2 separate regions of the Homo sapiens genome follow, and region 2 is linked to region 1. The links come from fine-mapping of genetic effects on gene expression. Tissue or cell type: blood mononuclear cells. Region 1 holds a variant in brackets; the other region holds the start of a gene. All regions are shown on one strand. Distances are from middle to middle.

What was found. PIP is the estimated chance that this variant, and not a neighbour inherited with it, causes the effect.
Region 2: it holds the start of AQR, and the variant in region 1 is fine-mapped to the expression of AQR in blood mononuclear cells (TOPMed, PIP 0.98).

Annotation. Positions count from the first base shown.
Region 1 is chr15:34,851,482-34,859,588 of GRCh38, forward strand. It overlaps AQR (aquarius intron-binding spliceosomal factor), which reads right to left. Exons shown (of 35, transcript NM_014691.3): 35 at 301-5,625. The coding sequence ends at 5,311. Among named protein-coding and RNA genes, the nearest start is that of ACTC1, 60 kb to the left of the region's middle. The variant C/G (reference allele first, on the strand shown) is at 3,610.
Region 2 is chr15:34,965,297-34,973,384 of GRCh38, forward strand. AQR (aquarius intron-binding spliceosomal factor) reads right to left here and starts at 4,446. Exons shown (of 35, transcript NM_014691.3): 1 at 4,243-4,446. The coding sequence starts at 4,317. RefSeq lists enhancers at 2,507-3,071, 4,240-4,389, 4,440-4,549.

The DNA.
Region 1 (8,107 bases):
GATAAGTATAATAGAGAGAGTGCACAATGTTAAATCAAAGGTAGAGGGGAAGAGGATTGTGGGGACAGTTATTCTGGAGATCAAGAAAGAATTCAGTATGCTTAATGCAAAGTAACTGCTGGGGTCCTTGTGTGTTAAATATTCTTATGCGAGGAAACTGTCTTCATGTTTTATATTTGCCTTCATTTTCTTTTATTATTTCCAGACCACCTCTATTGGTTATGCTAAGTAATCCTTTTCTCTTTTTGGAGTTTAAACTTTTTAAGGAAACAAAAACTAAAGAACAGAAAGCCAGACACATTGGAAATACAAACTCTTCTTTTACTGCATAAGAAATGAGAAGAAAAACTTAGTGTGAAATTCTGGAGTCTAAAATTAAAATGTAAACAGAGAATGCTCAGTGACCTTTTCTTAGGAGGCTCACATGAAGGAATGTCATGGTACATTGACCAAACTTTTATTCATTTGCATTTTCAGGATGTTGCGATTAATACCACATGACACTCAATAAATTACACTACGACATTTTGTACAAATCACTTCACTTCTGGTTTCCTCTTCGGCTGTTACTTCACCCTCTGGTTACCTGTAGGGAAAAAAAATGTATTTTGGGGCTTTATCTTTAAAGGGCGATTCACAGTTCTAGCCAATGTAAAGATATTGGTTCCCAAGGAAATAGCTACCTAAGTTATGTTTTTTTTTTTTTTTTGAAGGAGTTTTTGCTCGTCGCCCAGGCTGGAGTACAGTGGCGCCATCTCAGCTCACTGCAACCTCCCCATCCCGGGTTCAAGTGATTCTCCTGCCTCAGCCTCCACAGTAGCTAGGACTACAGGTGCCTGCCACCATGGCTGGCTAATTTTTGTCTTTTTAGTAGAGACGGGGTTTCACCATGTTGGGCCGGATGATCTCGATCTCCTGACCTCAGGTGATCCGCCCGCCTGGGCCTCCCAAAGTGCTGGGATTACAGGCGTGAGCCACTGCACCCGGCTCGTGTTCTAAGGAAATAGCTACCTAAGGTATCTTATTAAAACAAATGAACAAAAAGTTTCCCAAACTGTGTTCTAAGGAAATAGCTACCTATCTTATTAAAAAAAAACAAAAACAAAGTTTTATGCTCTAATAAGTTTGGGAAATGCTAGGTTAAACAAAGCTAAACATGATTCTTTCCAGTGGGACATCTGAGAGTCTTTAATTAGCTAACAGTGCATTGTGATTCTGCAAAGGAGGAACAATAATTCACTGTTTCCCAAACTTATCTGACCATAGAACATATTTCTCAGAGTATTTTTCAAGAGTAGTATTTTCTGTAATATATGATGAAAAATAATCGTATCGGCCATCTTTGTACATAAGGTCAAAATGTCAGGCAGCCCTGAAATAAACGCAAGCCAAAAGGTAGAGAGATAAGTGAATAAAGCTGGCACACTGTCAGTCCGGAGTACCATGCTGCATTCTGAGTCAAGCTCCAGGAAACTGAGCTAGGGTTTGTCTCTAAGAAGAAAAACTGGAGCGTCCAAAGCTTCTGGATTCCATTTAATTAAAACCCTTTTAAATTAAATCCTTGTAACTGAAGAGTATCGGTGGATGAAGAAAAAATAGTCTCACATGTCTTCATTTCCATCCTTGGCTCAGTACAGCTCCAGTTCCATTATTCTTAAACATCTATTAACATGATTGCTAAATAATTACACAGGCTAACTGCCAAGCATTTTTCACAGGAAGCAAGGCACTGCTCTTCTGGCTTATGCAAAAGGGTCACTGTTTTTTTTTTTTTTTTAACTTTATCTTGTTTTGATTGAAGAAACATCTCTAAAAATACCATCTGAGTGCAAGATAAAAAGGAAATAGCAATTCAAGGCACAAAGCTAAGCACATGCAACAATATAGATGATTTGGGGGTGGGACAGTACAGAATTCAGAACTGATAGAAGTTATCAGCTCCATATTTCAGAAAGACCTAATGTCTTCCTTCTGCTTATACTGTTCTGACAGAATTTTAATTTTGGCAGAGATCACTCTCGATGTTATGATGTACTGATTCAGAGGTCCCAAATCAGTAACCTGATCCTAGATAGATCCTCAAAGGTCAACTGCCACTAGGTGTCCCCTTCTTGATCATTCTTCATGCTGCCTGGATTGGGGCATGGCTAAGCACTCAAGTCAAAGGATTAGTTGGCAATATCCTACATTGTCAACAAAGCTTTGAAGAAAAACAGAGACAGAAACTGGTATTTACTAAGTACCTAGGTGATAAATTATTTTCATAAACATTACCCTATAAAACAGACAACTCTCCTGTCCCAAATCCAAACAGATCTTTTTCCTTTATTTACAGATAAAGAAAATGGGCTTAGAGAGGTTATAAAATTTGTCTAAGGTCTAACCAAATGCTGATAAGCAAATTAGGTACAACTCTGAGCCAGGTCTCGATGAGTCCAAAGTGTGTTTTATAATATCTTGCTGTCTCTTGATCATTACAAAATTTCATTTGTTTACAGGAGCACAAATGGCCTATTTATGCCTTTTCTCTCAGCATCTAGCAAAACATCTCAACTTTTATTACACCAACTTTGGGAGTCTTGATGATGTTTAAATCTTCTCATTCATTTGCCTAAATCAATAGAGCTATTTATCCTCAACTGTTGGCAATGAACTTTCTTAACTCAGAATTTTGAAAAAAAAAAAAAAAAAAGAAGAAGAAATTCTAAATACTTGAATTGCTTCATTTCATGCTCATTCTTTTGGGCATGGCTCTTTTTGGTTTTCTTTACAAAGAGATTCTAAAATCATGACACATTTAGATATGAAAAATAGGATGGAGAGCAATGGGAACACTAATCTGAAATAGTCACATGGCTAGAGTACCTGTGTCTGTAGTAATCCCAAACTATATAGAAAACTCTTGAATTTATTAAGCAATCCCTCATGTGTGCTTGATTGAAAAAATAAACAAAGCAGTGCCGTAGAACTGTAGACTTGGATTCTACCCCCACTCTTCCATAGTTGCCACCCTGGTTAAGTCTCTCTGATTGTTTCCTCATTATTTAAAATAAGTACAGCTCTTAAATTCCTTCAAAAATTCCCAAGATTCTACAGTCAACTGCCACTCACTTGCCTTTCCAATGAATAAACCGTTTAAAAGAATTCAAATCCCACCACCTTTACCCTTTCTAAATTCTTTTGACAAGGACAAAGGACTTACCCATCCATCTTCCACCTAAATTTGCTTTTTAGTGATAGAAAAACCAAGCAGCAAAGAAAAAAGTATGGTCACTCATCTAGGCAAGAGTGATGTACATTGCTTGGACAATAGTTAAGGAGAGAGCACTTAACAGCCAGCTTATTTTGGTTGCAGGTATCATACCTCATATCCCCTAAGGGAGAGAGAAAAATCAATCTTTTCCAGGAAAGATGGTAATACAGTAAAGCTTCTTTCCCTTGCTTGGCCTGATACCAAATATTTACAAATGAAAATAATTCTATGAGTGCGATTCCCCATACAGATGCCCACAGCACCTGCTTTCAAAATCTTTTATCGGAGAAATTACATAACAGGCTATCTGGCTTGATCCTTACTCTGATAACAAATAGACCTGGGTTTCCTAGTAT[C/G]GCGTCCTTGGTATTTCACTCCTCTCATCGTCTCATCACTTTCATTTCCCCTCATCACCTGACATTGACACAAATGTCCTGATGCAGTAGGATACATCATAAAATGAGAGTCTGTACCATATTCAACACAGCCTGGTAGAGCTGAGCAAACACTAGTCACTCAAAAATATAACTGACTTGACTTTCTGGGTTTAATTTCCCTATGAAGCAATCATTCCTTCAAAATGTCAGGACCAGAAGGATTTCAATGGTAGTGTGCAGTTCTTGCTTGTTTCTTCAAAGATTCCTTGGACATGGCCAGGCCCATAGGTGGATGCACTAGAGGAGACATTCTGGGGTAAATGCTCCCCTCCCCTTTAGATACTCTAGCAGATGATCAAAATGGGAAATAGAGAACTAGTGGGCAATTTTCCCCTCTACACATACATATAAACATTTCCTTTTTTTTTTTTTTTTTTCCAGTTCTGGGCACCATGCCCAGGGACCTTGTAAGCAGAGGTCCCTTGTCAGAAAACATTAGTCACATTCACTGGTAATTCTACATTATAGCCTCATTCATGTGAAGACAACACAGTAATCTTAGTACAGTGCTTCTCAAACTACAAAGTGCCTGTGAATCACCTGGGGACTTTGTTGCAATGTAGATTTAGATTTAATAGGTTTGGAGCAGAGCCCAAACTTCTGCATTTCTATAAATAACAAACTTCAATACGATGTTGATGCTGTTGGTTCACAAATCATACTTGAGTAGCAAGGTCCCAGGTACCTCTGCCTTCCCATATTTGAACCACATTTTACCTGAAGGTCTCCTTGTGGCTGGTTATCCCAAGAAAAATAAGGCAGAAAACTCAGAATTTCTGCCATGGGAAAATTCTACCCTGCACACAGGAGTTAAGTTCTCTGACTCTCATTGCCCAGACTCAGGATCCTGCTTCTTGCCCAGATTGATTTGGCAGAGTCCTCCTATTTAGCTGATGACAAATCCTGGCTCAGCCTAACCAGCCTTGGCTGATGCCACTCTGCCAGCAACCCAAACATTAGTGGTGTGGAGAACCTCCTAAAATATAGATTCCTAGGCTCTAATCCTGAGATTCTGACTCATTCAGTCTGAGGTGTGCCTCAAGAATAAACAGACATCTTAGGTGATTCTAAGGCATTCTAAGATTTGAGAGAAGGAAATGCATGTAACCACTTTGATAGATTGAAGAAACCTGTATCTTACTGCTAATAATATCTTTACATAAAGACAGCAAACAAAGGTAAGAAAAAAGGAAACAGAATTTAAGCATTTGATAGTATAACAGAAGAAACAAGTTCCTTCCCAATTTGGACACTCAAGGGTATTCGTGGTTAAGTCCAGTATATTCTGTCCTCTTCTTTAGAGAAGTTCACTAAAAATGTGAAGTATATATTATATATTCATAGAAAATGATTTTAATGTAGGTATGATTACAGACACACTCAGTGATCAAAACATGAAAGGAATGGTTATTTGCTCTTCTGATTGAACAAATGAAACTAGAATTGTTCATACACATAATTTAAAAAAATATATTCAAGACACCGAAATCAGTTAACAAATATAAGAACTAAACATTAATTAGTGACAGTAAAATGGCAGAAGCAAATATAAAATACAAAAAACAGCTTTACTCAGACTTTTTGACTGCCATGTCCTCCTTTAGAAGGACTACAGTTTGGCTACTTGGTCTCTTCCGGGGCAGATGTGGCATCCTGAGGTGTGTTAGCTTCTGCCGGTGCAGATACAGCTCCTACCACAGTAGGGGTGGTCTCAGATAAAGCAGGGATGGCTTCTGGAGTGGAAGTGGCTCCTGTCTCACTGGGGGTGGTGTCAGTTTGAAAGGCTGGAGTTTCTTGACGGCAGCTGGTGTCTGTTGGACTGGGTATGATGTCAGCTTGAACAGTCATGGCCTCTTCTTCTGTTTCCAATTCTGTTTCTTGATTTTGAACTTCCTCACCCTCTTCTACCATAGCAGGTGGTAGTTGTAATAAAGTCTAATTAAAAAAAAAAAAACAAAGACAATACCAATATGAAAAACAGCTTATAAAGCTAAGCTCTCACATTACCATTCTAGAGTTCTCCAAAACAGTGCTGACCATTTTATACTCCAGATGTAACACCTCTGATGACAATGGTCTAGGTTCTGCTAACACCAAGGAATATGCCTACACAGATGTCATATACTGATAATCAAAATACATATAAAATCTTCAGAGAGGAAAACAACCATGAAAAGCTATTAGATTTTTAAGCAACATACTTTGCTGTCAACATTTCTGCAAAAAACAGTGACTGATCAGGACTGATTATAAAACTAACTCAAGAAAGGGTCAACTTTAATCAAAGAGCCCTGTGAGCTGGGTGCGGTGGCTCATGGTGGCATTCCCGGCACTTTGGGAGGCCAAGGCAGGCGGATCACTTGAGGCCAGGAGTTCGAGACTAGCCTGGCCAACATGGTGAAACCCCATCTCTACTAAAAAACACAAAAATTAGCTGAGCGTGGTGGCAGGAGCCTGTAATCCCATCTACTCAGGATGCTGAGGCAGGAGAATCACTTGACCCTGTGAGTTGGAGGTTGCAGTGAGTTGAGATTGTGTCACTGCACTCCAGCCTGGGTGACAGAGAGAGATTCTGTCTCAAGAAAAAGAAAAAGAAAAGAAAAAGAGCCCTGTGAGAGGCAGAGAGGAGCCTGGCCTTAAGGCAAAGCCATGGGAGAAGGGAGCAGCAAGGAACAAGGTTTCTGTTCCGTTCAACCAGAAAACTGGAGCAACTCTATATGCTTAGCTTGCCCTTTGCCCCATGGCAGTCTAGTGACTTTCTCATCAGGGACTCTGCTTACAATGCTGGAAATTGAATGAATGAATTGATTGATCGATTGATTGATTGACTGAGACAGAGTCCCACTCTGTCGCCCAAGCTGGAGTGCAGTGGTGCCATCTTGGCTCACTGCAACCTCCGTCTCCCAGGTTCAAGCGATTCTCCTGCCTCAGCCTCCCAAGTAGCTGGGATTACAGACATGTACCACCATGCCTGGCTAATTTTTGTATTTTTAGTAGAGACGGGGTTTCACCATGTTGGCCAGGCTGGTCTCGAACTCCTGACCGCAGGTGATCCACCTACCTCAGCCTCCCAAAGTGCTAGGATTACAGGCATAAGCCACCGCGCCTGGCCTTTAAGATTTTTAAAAAGTACCGTGCACGACAGCAGCAAAAAAAAAAAAAAAAAAAAAGAAAACGAAAAAGAAAAATACTTAGCAAAATGTTAACAAAATATGTGTAAGGTTTGTATGTTGAAAACTACAAAATCCTGATGAGAATTTAAAGAAGATCTAAATAAACGAGAGATCTTATTCATGGATAGGAAGACTTAATATGTGAAGATGTTAATCTCCCCAAATAGATCCTAAACAATCCTCCTCTTCAAAATATCCTTTTAAAAACTGCAGCATGCTTTTGGGGGTAGAAACTGACCTGCTGATTGTAAAATGTATACAGAAAAGCAAAGGAACTGGGATAGCTAAGACAATTTCTAAAATGAAGAACAAAGCTAAAGGACTTATGTTATCTAATTTCCAGACTGACTGTAAAGCTACTATAATCAAGGTAGTACAGTCATGGCAAAGGGACGGATATACAGAATAATGGAACAGAATAGAAAGCCCAGACTCTCACATATATAGTCAATTGATATTTTGACTAAGATGACAAGCAAGTCAACAAAGAAAAAAATCGCCTATTAGGGAAGTGGTGCTCAAACAACTGCATATCCACAGACAAATGAATAAAACTCAGTCCTACCTGTATCATATAAAAATTAACTCAAAATGCATCATACCTAAGTATCCAACCTAAAACTCTGCAACTTCTAGAAAAAACCTTTATACCTCTGAGTTAGGCTATGTATTTTTAGGACATAAAAAGCATGAATCATAAAAGAACACTTTGATACATTGAACTTCATCAAAATTTAAAACTTTTGCTCTTTGAAAGACACTTACAAAATAAATAAACAAGCCAGAATGGGAGAAAATATTTGTAAAATACATATCAGATAAAGGACTTGTAGCCAGAATAAATAAAAACCTCTCAAAACTTAATAAAATATACAGCCTAATAAAAAAATGAGCAGGAAACCTGAGCAGACACATCCCCAAAGATATACAGATGGCAAATGACCACATGAAAAGATGCTCATCATCAGTCCTTAGGGAAATGAAAACCAAAACCATACTGAGACCACTGTATATCTATTAGAACTGCCAAAATTTTAAAAAGACGTACCATATCAAGTGAGGGTGAGGATGTGTAGCAACTAGAACTCTCACACTGCTGCTGAGAGTGTAAAGTGGTTCAACCACTTTGAAAAACAGGTTGGTAGCTTCTTAAAAAGTTAAACACATCCTTAACATAAATTCAGCCATTCCACTCTTAGGTATCTACCCAAGATAAAGTACAAAGACTTGTATAAGCAATAGTA
Region 2 (8,088 bases), 110 kb after region 1:
ACTTAAAGAGCCTCCCAGGCAGTTAGGACACTGGCCCTGAGGAATAGCCTCTAAAAATATTACAGTAACTTCCTACTTAAATGACACCTTCCGGCCAGGCATGGTGGCTCATGCCTGTAATCTCAGAACTTTGGGAGGCCGAGGCAGGCGGATCACCTGAGGTCAGGAGTTCAAGACCAGCCTGGCCAACATCGTGAAACCCCATCTCTACCAAAAACACAAAAATTAGCCAGGCTTGGTGGTGTGCACCTATAATTCCAGCTACTTGGGAGGCTGAGGCAGGAGAATTGCTTGAACCTGGGAGGTGGAGATTGCAGTGAGCCAACACCAAGCCACTGCACTCCAGCCTGGGCGACAGAGCAAGACTCCGTCTCTAAAATAAATAAATAAATAACACCTTCCCAAATTACCAATCACTCTCCAACTCAATAGAAAATCTTCACCTCACCCCCAGTTATTCTGTGGTGTCCTCATTTCCTCATTCTGCTCCCTATGGGCATCATAAATTCAGTCATCTTCTTCTTACATCATACCATTAAGAGAATTGAGTCTAACCTGTTATGATGGACTCAGGAAATTACAAATAAAAATGTATATCCTATCTCTGATCTAAACTGCTTACTGTACATCTGTACTTGATTAAAGATTAGCAAACATTTATTAAGCATCTATCATGTCTCTTCTCTGAGTTTCTCCTTTCCCTTGGGGTCTAACGTGTAATGTCTCAAATATCACGATCTCACAGTATATACACATTGCCCTCCCTCAAACTCTCTAGTCTCATGTAAAATAAAAACTTTCCATTCTCTACTTAGTACAGCTATGACAGTATAAACTGTTTAAAGTAAACCTTACTGAAAGACAAAAAAGGAAATAAAAATATAATGGTATAAAAAAGTGAGGTCACAAAGTTCAGATCTCCAATCTCCTTAAAACTAAATTTTAACCTCTTGATCTCATTCATTCAATAAATAATTTTAAAAGTACCTTTTCTGGCTAGGTATGCCAGATGCTCAGAAATTAAATTAAAAAGAAAGAAGAAGAAAACACCTAAGCCCAAGATGTCCCCTCTACCTAGAAAACCAATTCCCCCACTTTCCTCTCTGCATTTCAAAGTCCAACTCAAATGATACTTTCTCAATGAGAAAATTCTTCTTGGAAATTCTTTCCTTCAACAAAGTAATAATTTCATGCTCTTTTCTCAAAGCACTTCCCTTATACCCCAATCTGGCATTTCTCACATTAAACTACAGTGAGTTCTTTAAGTCTCTTAAAGTCTCCTTCCACAGACTGTGTGTTAGATTGTGAGAACATGTCTGTTTTATTCCCCATGTACTCCCAGCACCTGGTATTGTACTAGGCACACACTGTGTGATGACTATTTGTCAAATGGATACATAAGTGAATTAATGAACAAATATGCCAGATCATTAAGATGTAGTGTGAGAAAGGAAGGTTCTCAGCAATCTTGGGCCATGGGAACAAACATTAATGTCTAATATTTGCCAGATACTGTTTAGGCTCTTCTAGAGTGCAAAGAAAGGTAATCTTTGCCTTCAAGGCCACCCTGGCCTTTTTTTTTTTTTTTTTTTTTTTTTGAGATGGAGTTCGCTCTTGTTGCCCAGGCTGAAGTACAATGGCGTGATCTCAGCTCACTGCAACCTCTGCCTCCTGGGTTCAAGTGATTCTCCTGCCTCAGCCTCCTGAGTAGCTGGGATTACAGGCATGCACCACCACGTCCGGCTAATTTTGTATTTTTAGTAGAGACAGGGTTTCTCCATATTGGCCAGGCTGGTCTCGAACTCCCGACCTCAGGTGATCCGTCCACCTCAGCCTCCCAAAGTGCTGGGATTACAGGTGTAATCCCACTGCGAGCCACAAGCCACCGCACCCGGCCCACCCTGGCCTTCTTTACATTCACACCTTAAGGTGTGTGTACTTGCTATTTCCTTGCTCTTCTCAAAACTGGCTCCTTCTTTGCATTCAGGTGTTAGCTCAAATGTCACCTCGGAGAGAACTTTCCTGACTGTCTTTCATACACCTCAAACCAGTCTGTCACAGCCCTGTTTCATTTTCCTCATAGCATTTATCAGTGTATGAAACTATACCGTTCATCTGTCTGGTTCTTCCCTCTAAAATGTGAGTTCCATGACAGAAGTAAACTAATAAATGACTTCTACTGCAAAAATGCAGGTATATGGGGAAAGAGACCTCTAATCTCGTTTAAGTTGTCAGGAAAAGCCTCTCTAAAGTAGTGTAGAAGGCTGAGAATGAATAAAGGAAGGTGGGGAGAAAAAAAATGAGGATTCCTAGCAGAGGAACAATGTTGAAAAGCCAGGAGATGAAAGATAGCATGGCACATTCAAATAAACGAAGTTCTGTACAGCTAAGGCACAGAGTTAGAAAGGAAGAGGAAAAAGAGGAAACTGAAGATATAAGCACAGGTCAAATCACACAACACTATGAAGGATTTCAGCCGTTAACCTAAGGGTAATTAGAATTCTTTAAAGATTTCTTTTTTTTTGCTTCGTTTTTAGACGGAGTTTTGCTCTTGTTGCCCAGGCTGGAGTGCAATGGTGCGATCTTGGCTCATTGCAACCTCCGCCTCCCGGGTTCAAGCAATTCTCCTGCCTCAGCCTCCCGAGTAGCTGGGATTACAGGCATGCACCACCAAGCCTGCCTACTTTTGTATTTTTAGTAGAGACAGGGTTTCTCCATGTTGGTCAGGCTGGTCTCGAACTCCCGACCTCAGGTGATCGACCTGCCACGGCCTCCCAAAGTGCTGGGATTACAGGCATGAGCCATCGCGCCCGGCTGAAGATTTTAAGGACAGCCAGCCTTAGTGTAGTCCCTGTAGTCCTAGCTACAAGGGAGGCTGAGGTGGAAGGCTCACTGGAGCCCAGCCAACATAGTGAGACCCTATCTTGAAAGAAGAAAAGGAAGGAAAGGAAGGAAGAGATTTTTTTTTTTTTTTGAGACGGAGTCTCGCACTGTTGCCCAGGCTGGAGTGCAGTGGCGCGATCTCGGCTCACTGCAAGCTCCGCCTCCCGGGTTCACGCCATTCTCCTGCCTCAGCCTCCCGAGTAGCTGGGACCAAAGGCACCTGCCACCATGCCCGGCTAATTTTTTTTCTTTTTATTTTTAGTAGAGACGGGGTTTCACCGTGTTAGCCAGGATGGTCTCGATCTCCTGACCTCGTGATCCGCCCGCCTCGGCCTCCCAAAGTGCTGGGATTACAGGCGTGAGCCCCTGCGCCCGGCCGGAAGGCAGAAATTTTAAGAAGGCAAGTGATATGATGAGATTTGCACTTGTATGAAATCACTCGGAAAGCAACATGAAGAATGGGCTAGAGCAGAGCAAGAGGAAGGACAATATAACAGATTACGATACCTTGGTCCAGGCAGAAAACAATGGCAACCAAGCTTAGGGTGACAGAGATGTAGAACACCAGATAGATTCAAAAGATATTTAGAATGTAGAAATGTAGGGACTAAGGGAAAGGGAGGATTCAAAATCACTCCCTAGGCTTCTGCCCTGGCAAATCTGTTGAGACAAGGAATAAAGAATAAAGAAGCAGGTGGGCATGATAACTTCTACATTGAACTACTTACACTCTTATGCAATTCACAAATAAATAATAAGAATGAGGAATGATGCTGACAACCACAGGACTGTGGTTCCCTATCCAAAGCCAACTGTGGCTCACAATGCAAGATAGTAAACAGATTCTAAATGAACGCTCTCAAACTACAGAATTACTCTGTTTTTAGATAGGTCTATTTGGAGGTGTCTTGTCAGTTTCTCATCGCTGCTCAAAAACTCAGGACACTCTAAGGACCAGGAAAAAGCCTACTCCTACTTGAAGAGGCAGTCCAGCATCACTCTGCTGCGAAGCCTACTTGCCAGTCTCAGATAGACTGGGGTGTTCCCTCCTCTCTGAATCCATTGCTCCTGAGACAAACTCCAACACAGCAAAACTCATACAGTAGTTTTATTTTCATGCGTCTGTCTTCCTTGGGCCATGAACTCCCCAGGGCAGGGCAGCTTCTTTCACCACGGTATGCCCAGCACCTAGCATAGTGGCCGGCACGGAGCTGATACTCAGTAAAAAGACGTGTGTGAATCAATTAACAAACGAATGCCTCCTCCGGACTCCTAAATCCTGAAAAAAAACCCCACCACCAGGCCTCGGGGCCACGACGTCCATACCCACTCACACACACCAGACTCGCCCGAGCTCACCTGGGTCACGAACTCCGCATTGATTTGGGACACCGTAGGGGCCACGATCTTCTTGGGCTGCGCAGGGGCTGCCATGGCAGCACTCTTCCCTCCACTCCAGTGGAAACTAAAGGACCGCTCTGGGCAGCGGCAACCCTGGTCCACTTCCCTTAAGTTACTGCCGGGGCGCTTAACTCCGCGCCGCACAAACGCTCCGGGCCGGATATCCTCAGCCTTCAGAGTCCCGTAGGGAACCCGTACAACAGCCCAAGCGTTCCTCGGGAAGCGGAATGGCGTGTAGCCGGAAGTTCATGCAGGCGTTGGGGCTGAGCTAGCGAGCCAAGAGCTTTGACCTCCTCTGTACACGCCCTCTAGCGGGCGGCAGAGAGAAGACACCTCGCTGGCGGGATTAGGAGGGCAAGGGAGGGACCCGGTGGATGGTGTTGGGTGGGGTTTCTCGTGGTTAGTGAAGAGTGCCGTGTGCGGTGAATGGGGATTTAGTTTTTTTTCAACCCTAAAGAAAAAACAAAACAAAACAAAAAAAACAGCCTGGGAATATGGGCTGGGTTTTAACTGCCCTTAACAGTGTTTTAGTTTAGTTTTGTTTTTTTTGAGACGGAGTTTCGCTCTTGTTGCCCAGGCTGCAATGCAATGGTGCAATCTCGGCTCACAGCAACCTCTGCCTCCCGGGTTCAAGCGATTCTCCTGCCTCAGCCTCCCGTGTTGTTGGGATTACAGGCATGCGCCACCATGCACAGCTAATTTTTGTATTTTTAGTAGACACAGGGTTTCTCCGTATTGGTCAGGCTGGTCTCGAACTCACCAACTTTAGGTAATCCGCCTGCCTCAGGGTCCCAAAGTGCAGGGATTACAGGCCTTAACAGTTTTATGGAGGTAAAAATTGACATACAATAACCCAGCCAGGCGCGGTAGTCACGCCTGTAATCCCAGCGTTTTGGGAGGCTGAAGCTGGCCGATTGCCTGAGGTCAGGAGTTTGAGACCAGCCTGGCTAACATGGTGAAAACCCATCTCTACTAAAAAACAAAATTTAGCCGGGCGTGGTGGCGCGCGCCTGTAGTTCCAGCTACTCGGATTCAGGAGAATAATCACTTGAAGCTGGGAGGCGGAGGTTGCAGTGAGCCGAGATTGCGCCATTGCACTCCAGCTTGGTGACAGAGCGAGACTAGCCTCAAAAAATAAAAATAAAATAATAATAAAAATAATTCACATACAATAACCCACACATATTTAGGTTGTAAAATTTGATGCGTTTTGACATGAACATACATTTGTGAAACTATTGCCAAAATCATAATGAGCATATCAAAGCCTCTAAAAGTTTCCTCGTGAACTTTTGCTATCTGTGCCTTTCACTGTTCCCACCCACTTTTCAGGCAACCACTGATCTGCTTTCTGTCACTATAGTTTGCTTTTCATGGAATTTTATATAAATGAAATAATACAGTGCATGCCTTCTTTCACTCAACGAAATGATTTTGAGATGGATTCATGTTGTTGCATGTATCAGTAGTTCATTCCTTTTTTATTGCTTAACATTCGTTCCATTTTACTGATATACCACAGTTTGATAAACTATTCATCTGCTGATAGACATTTGAGTTGTTCCAAGTTCTCAGTTATTACAAATAAAGCCACTATGAGCATTTGTGTATAAGTCTTCATGTGGACATATACTTCCTTTGCTCTTAAATACTTAGGAGTGAAATATTTGGGTTATACGATAGGTGTGTTTGTTTGTTTGTTGTTTGTTTGAGATGGAGTCTTGCTCTGTCGCCCGGGCTGGAGTGCAATGGCGTGATCTCGGATCACTGCAACCTCTGCCTCCTGGGATCAAGAGATTCTCCTGCCTCAGGCTCCTGAGTAGCTGGGATTACAGGCAACGCGCCATCACACCTGACTAGTTTTTGTATTTTTAGTAGAGACGGGGTTTCACCATGTTGGTCAGGCTGGTCTTGAACTCCTAAGCTCGTGATCTGCCCACTTTGACCTCCCAAAGTGCTGGGATTACAGGCATAAGCCACTGCACCCGGCAAGTATATGTTTAAGTTTTTAGAAACTGCCATCTTTCTAAAGTAGTACTATTTTACATTCACATCAGGAGCATATAATTCTAGTTTGTTCTCCACCTCGTCAACACTTAATATGGACAATTTTTTTTAAATTTTTAAGTTCAAGGGCACATGTGCAGGATGGGCAGGTTTGTTACATAGGTAAAGGTGTGTCATAGGGGTTCATTGTACAAATTATTTCATCACTCAGGTATTAAGCCCAGTATACATTAGTTATTTTTTCTGATCCTCTCCCTCCACCCACCCAACCCTCTGGAAGGCCCCAGTGTGCATTGTTCCCCTCTATGTGAATATGGACAATCTTTTAATTTTAGTCTTTATTTATTTATTTATATATTCATTTTGAGATGGAGTCTCACTCTGTCGCCCAGGTTGGAGTGCAGTGGCCCGATCCCAGCACACTGCAACCTCCACCTCCCGAGTTCAAGCAATTCTCCTGTCTCAGCCACCCGAGTAGCTGGGATTACAGGCACACGCCACCACACCCAGCTAATTTTTGTATTTTTAGTAGAGACGGGGTTTCGCAATGTTGGCCAGGCTGGTCTCGAACTCCTGACCTCAAGTGATCCACCTGCCTCGGCCTCCCAAAGTGCTGGGATTACAGGCGTGAGCCACCGGGGGCGCCCAGCCCCTAATTTTAGTCATTTTAATAGGTGTGTGATATATTTCGTTGTGACTTTCATTTACATTTCCCTAATGACTAATTGAGCATCTCTTCATGTGCTTATTTGCTATTCATATATCTTCTTTGGGGAAGCCTCTATTCATATTTTTTGCCCTTTTTTAAATTGAATAACTTGGTTTCTTACTACTGAGTTTCAATGCACACCCCTACCATTCCCAAATCCATACGTAAATTAAACATGTGTCTCTAGTTAAACTCTCCCTGGATGAACACATGCAAGAAACTGATAACACTATTGTTTCCAAGAAGAAGGAACTGTGGGGAGGGGACAACAGGAAGGGGAGAAAAGTTATTTCATATTTTATACCTTTTTGTAACTTTAGAATTTTGTAATATGTATGACATGTTCAAAAATAAACAGTGTAGGCCGGGTGCAGTGGCTCACGCCTGTAATCCCAGCACTTTGGGAGGCCAAGGCGGGCAGATCACAAGGTCAGGAGACTGAGACCATCCTGGCTAACAATCCTGTCTCTACTAAAAATACAAAAAATTAGGCGGGTGTGGTGGCGGGCGCCTGTAGTCCCAGCTGCTCGGAAGTCTGAGGCGGGAGAATCACTCGAACTGGGGAGGCGGAGGTTGCGGTGAGCTGAGATCAGGCCACTGCACTCCAGCCTGGGCAACAGAGCAAGACTCCATCTCAAAAAAATAAAAATTTAAAAAAACAGTAAAAAAATAAACAGTGTGGGCCAGGCGCAGTGGCTCACGCCTGTAATCCCAGCACTTTGGGAGGCCGAGGCAGGTGGATCATCTTGAGGTCAGGAGTTCAAGACCAGCCTGGCCAACATGGTGAAACCCCATCTCTACTAAAAATACAAAAACTTGCTGGGCATGGTGGTGTGCACCTGTAATCCCAGCTACTCGGGAGGCTGAGGCAGGAGAATCACTTGAACCCAGAAGGCGGAGGTTGCAGTGAGCAGAGATTGCACCATTGCACTCCAGCCTGGGCAACAAGAGTGAAACTCCATCTCAAAACAACAACAACAACAACAACAACAACAAAAATAAAAACAAAAATAGACAGTGTGAACGTGAAAGCAAAAGCCTGTAGGAATGGAGATTAAATGTGAAGTCCTTTTTCCCCCTATGTTATT